2 separate regions of the Homo sapiens genome follow, and region 2 is linked to region 1. Evidence: fine-mapped expression QTL. A gene starts in region 1. The other region holds a variant in brackets. All regions are shown on one strand. Distances are between the middles of the regions.

Region 1 (2,840 bases):
CTCCAGGAGAGCCTGGTTCTTTTCCCAAGAACACACATACCCAACCACTTATCAAGTTCAATGTACTCCAGTACTTGAAAACTCATACAGGGAACAAATGACTTGTATGGATAATTCAACACTGCTGAGAAACTGTGTATCGGGGGCAAGCATCGTTAAGAGAGCTCTTCCAGACAACTCCATTCAGAGCTGCGCACTCACACTCTCCTTCGCCCAGCCCTGTTTTATTTTCTTCAAACATGTTTCATTAAAAAGAATAAATTTTTAAAAAAAACCTTTTTTTTTTTTTTTGAGACGGGGTCTTGCTTTGTCTCCCAGGCTGGAGTGCAGTGAAGCGATCTCGGCTCACCGCAACCTCTGCCTCCCGGGTTCAAGCAATCCTCCCACCTCAGCCTCCTGAGTAGCTAGGATTACAAGCGCGTGTCACCACGCCCGGCTAATTTTTGTATTTTTAGTAGAGACAGGGTTTCACCATGTGGGTCAGGCTGGTCTCGAACTCCTGACCTCGTGATCCGCCCGCCTCGGCCTCCCAAAGTGCTCGGATTACAGGCGTGAGCCACCAAGCCGGGCCTCACAATGCCTATCTTTCTTACTACACTCCCTCCTAACTGTACATTCTGGGAGAGCGCGGACCTTTCCATCTGTATCTCCAGCGCTCGGCACTCAAAAAAATGCACTGAATAAATGAAACCGTGAGCTCTCATCAAAGTCTGGACCAAAGAGTCCCTCTTCTGTTTCTCACAAACTTCTGTCTCCTAAACACTCTTCTTCAATTAGTAGCAGAATTTTGCCTCCCCCCCAAAAAAAACACATCTTGACCTCATGAAGAAAACTCCCGATCTAATCTTGGAAGCACTGAGCTCCACCGAAAAGGAGAAAGGCTTAAGAGAATCCTGTAGAGAAAAGCTCCGTGAGAAGAATTAACGTGAGCCTGAACGGGCTGAGTTAGGTTACGCCACGGTGAGAAAAGGCTGGGCAAGGGAGGCAAGGAAGCCTGGAACCCTGGGGACCGCGGTCTCCCTGGTGAAACCAGAGTCTACACTCCCAGAGAGGCCCACCCCGACGAGACGGCCTGAGGAGGCTAGGAGGCCCCGGGAGGATGAAGCCGCAGCCCCCGCTCGGCCCGGGGAGTGCGGCGGGAAGCGCTTTCGAAAGGCCGCGGAGCGCCAGGCCCTGCAGGCCGCCCGGGGACTCAACTCACCTGGCCCACTTGCTCCGTGGCATCGGCCAGGATGCCATAATTGCGGTAAAGCTCCTCTACTGTCGGCATGGTGAGCGACAAGCCCAGGGCCCGGTTCCGCTATCCTTGTCCTGACCGGCGCCACCGCCGCCTCGGAACTTCTCCAAACCCACTACCCGCACTATTACACCTCCAGCTGCCGCCAGTGCAGCCGCCAGTCACCGCGCACAGCGCGGCTGCGCCCCCGACGTCTACGTAAAGACGCGCACGTCGGGAGCGGCCTTCAGTAGACACCCCCCACCCCAATGCGCCTCCGCGGTTTTTGTCGCCCTCTACAGCCTGGAGGAGCAAAAAAGCGGCAAGGATGATTGAATTAGCTCACGCCTTTTTGAAAGCTTGAGCTTGGCTGCAGGCTCTCCATGGAAGGGGTGTGGGTGGGCGGGGAAGTGAATACAAAGACAATTGCGTTTCTGCCCTTAGAAGATCTTACATATGAGAAGTCACAAATGGTTTCCTCCTGATTCAAGGAAGGTAATATTAATCGGTGGCACTAGAGGCTAGTGGGTCCGGTGGGAAGCAAAAAACATTCCTATGCTATTAAAAAACCCTCTGTGTCCACCACGCTCATCAAGTGCGGGGTCAAATTTGGCCTGCTGGAAGAATTTGCTTATCTTTGCTGCCAGTGTAAAGAATTGGGGCCACCTGATTATGTCCAGTATCCAAAAGAATAATAAATAAATGAAATCACGTACGCTTACTGATAAGAATTTCTAAGATACAAGTTTAAATGAAATTATATATATAATATGATATAATATATAATATTTTATATATTATATAATATATAACATTATATATTAATATATAATAATTTTATATATTATATAATATATAATATTATATATTAATATATAATATTATATATTATATAATATATAACATTATATATTAATATATAAATATATAATATATAATATAAATATAATAATATTATATTAATATATAAATATATAATATATAATATAAATATAATAATATTATATTAATATATATTAAGATAATAATATTAATTAATACATTAATTATATAATATAATTATAATATATCTATATATTGAGATATAATATTAATTAATATATCAATATTATCAATTATATATTATAATTATCTTATATTATATATAATATATTAATTATATAATTAATATATTAATATTATTATCTTAATATATATTAATATATTATTATATTTATATATCATATATAATATTATGATATTAATATTATAATATATATTATATATTATATTATATATACAATTATATATATAATATATATTATATATTGTATATTATTATATAATTATATATTAAGATAATAATATATATTAAGATAATAATATATTATATATATTAAGATAATAATATATATTATATATATTAAGATAATAATATATATTTATATATTAAGATAATTATATTTATATAATAATATTATATATATATATAGCCGTGTGCGGTGGCTAACGCCTGTAATCTCAGCACTTTGGAAGGCTGAGTTGGGTGGATCACTTGAGGTCAGGAGTTCAAGATCAGCCTGGTCAACATGGTGAAACCCTGTCTCTACTAAAAATACAAAAATTAGCCAGGCGTGGTGGCATG
Region 2 (2,840 bases), 75 kb before region 1:
ATCTGAATTTATGTGTCATTTCCATGTATATTTTTATAAATATTTGTATAAAATACTACATTACTCTTACTCTCCTAAAATATTACTTTCATTATATGTGTATCAAAAATCAAAATACAGCATTGCTTTGTAAGTTTTAAAATTTTATATAAATGGTATCATACTTAATGTATCTACAACTTAAAAAAAGTATGTATGTTTTTGAGATTTATCTACATTAGTCAGGATAGCTCTAAATTTTTCATTTAAATGGATGTATAAATATGTATTTATCCATTTTCCTGTAAACATTTATGTTGCTTCTTTAAGAAAAACTTTCTTTGCTATTAAAAATGCTACTATATTCTTATAAATGTCTCCTTGTATACATGTGAAAAATTCTAGCAAGGGCAGAAATATGGGGGTCATATGGGATGCACATTTTCAGTTTTATATAGACGTGTCAATCTGCTTTTCACAGTGATTATAACAATTAGAATTGTCCCAGTAGATCATAACACCTATATCCCCAGAATCTTAGCAATGTTTGGTTTTGTCATACTTTTTAACTTATGCCAATCAAATAGGTATGAAACATTATTTTGTTATATTTATTATGGTAGTAGACTATGTTATTGTGATGGACTGTATTACTATTCACTAATATCCTGCCCCTCCTTACATGATACATCACTGTTTTTGCTGGACTCAGGCTTGGGCAACATGACTTGCTTTGGCCAATGTAACATAAGTCCCATGTGACCCTTTTATAGGAAAGGTTTTATAGAGTTAGTGTGTGCTTCACCATGTTCTTTCTTTTTCCCTCAGCTACTGAGAATGCCAAAATTACAGACAGAGGCTGCTCTGTCGGCCTAGGTCCTGTCTTATGGATCACAGTGACATGGTACAGATCCCCAACAGAGCCCCAAATGATCACTTAGCATGACCTTATTGTTTATGCCATTAAGATTTTTGGGGTTATTATTAATGGGGACAGAGCCTATGATCTGTTTCCAATTATTCCCTCCACACTTTTCATGGAGATATGCTATCCTGCCCTACTGACTTCAAGGCATGGCCACATGACTTGCTTTGGCCAATGGAATGTGAGTAAAGATGGTGTATGTCACTTCTCAGTAGAAACTTTAACCAGGCTTATATTATTTGGTTGTTCTTCCTTGAGCCTTCACTTTCCTTCATGAGAACAGCACTGAGGTTCTGCGGGCTATTTGTTGCCAATGCAAAAGCTGACTAATACACTATAAAATATGGACTATATCAACCAATAGAATAATATTTAATAAGATTGAACATATTTTCATATGTTTATGAGATATTTTGTGAATTAACTGTTTAAGTTTGCTTATTTTTTCCCCCCAATAGCTTTTCTTCTTTAAAAAACTGATTAGTAGGATTGGCGTGGTGGCTTGTGCCTATAATCTTAGCATTTTGGGAGTCCAAGCCTAGAGGATCACTTGAGTTCAGGAGTTTGAAACCAGCCTGGCAATACTGCGAGACCCCATCCCCATGAAACAAAGTTAGCCAAGTATGATGGTGGTGCTTGCCTGTAGTCCTAGCTACTGGAGAAGCTGAGGTAGGAGGACTGCTTGAGCCCAGGCAATGAG[G/A]TTATAGTGAGCAATGATCATCCTACCTGCTTTCCAGCTGGGGCAAGAGTGAGACCCTGTCTCACAAAAATGAATAAATAAATAAATAAATACATACATACGTAAGAAATTAATCTATAGAAATTTATGGAAAAAGTAATTCTATAAACTCATCCTCTATGAGTTATATGCATGGCAAGTATCAGCTTTTAGTTTGTAGCTTATCTTTTAATTTTGTCATTTGAAGAAAAACTTTTAATTATAAGGTGGGCAACTTTATCAACTGTTTTCTTAATTGTTTGTACTTTGTTTTATTTAAGAAATCCTTCCCAAACCTGAGATCGTAATTACATCAATCAACTACAGTCAAGTACCACATAAAGATGTTTTTGGTTAACAAGGGACCCCAGCAGTGGTCTCATAAGATTATAATACCACATTTTTACTGTACCTTTTTTATGCTTAGTTATACAAATACTTACCATTATGTTACAACTGCCTACAGTATTCAGTACAGTAACATGTTATACAGGCTTTATCACCTAGGTTTGTGTAAGTACACTCTATGATGTTCCCACAATGGTGAAATCCCCTAACAACACATTTCTCAGAGCATATTCCTGACGTTAAGCAATGCATGACTATCAATATTTTTTTTTAGTAAAAAGTTTCACTTTTCATACTTAGATTTTTAAACTGCATAGGAAATTTTTTTTTTTTTGTACATTGAAAGGTATTTTTTTCCCACATGGACAATCAATTTCCTAATATCATTTATAAAAAGTCTATCCTTTCCCCATTTATTCAATCAATTTTTATATTTCATGTTTTCTAAAACCTTACATTATACCTAAGTTTTCAAATATATTGGTCTAGTTTTTGTAGTATTAATAATTATGTCTTTAGTTTAAAAAATCTTTATCTGATATCTGCTTTTTCATCACTAACATTTCTTTTTTTCTGTCATTTCTTTTTCTGGTAAGCCTTGCTGCTAGAGTTTGGTTTATTTTTTAAATAAACAATACTGTTTTCTTGAGACTGTTTAATTTCTTATGTTATTTATAATATTATTTCCATATTTATATTAGGTTATTTTAGTTATTTGGTTTATTATGTTTTCTAACTCGTGTTGAATATTTAACTCATTTCTTTTCAGTCTTTTTTTTTTTTTTTCTTTTTAAAGACAAGCTCTTGCTATGCTGTCCTGTCTGGACTCAAACTCCTAGGCTCGAGCAATCTTCCCGCTTCAGCCTCCCA

The links. PIP is the estimated chance that this variant, and not a neighbour inherited with it, causes the effect. A credible set is the group of variants that fine-mapping cannot tell apart.
Region 2: its variant is the best candidate, but not a certain one, in a credible set for the expression of API5 in whole blood (INTERVAL, PIP 0.59).

What each region holds. Positions count from the first base shown.
Region 1 is chr11:43,310,558-43,313,397 of GRCh38, reverse strand. It overlaps API5 (apoptosis inhibitor 5), which reads right to left and starts at 1,402. Exons shown (of 14, transcript NM_001142930.2): 1 at 1,202-1,402. The coding sequence starts at 1,270. RefSeq lists an enhancer at 874-1,649.
Region 2 is chr11:43,385,634-43,388,473 of GRCh38, reverse strand. The region is part of intron 2 of TTC17 (tetratricopeptide repeat domain 17); the gene reads right to left. Among named protein-coding and RNA genes, the nearest start is that of TTC17, 28 kb to the right of the region's middle. The variant G/A (reference allele first, on the strand shown) is at 1,605.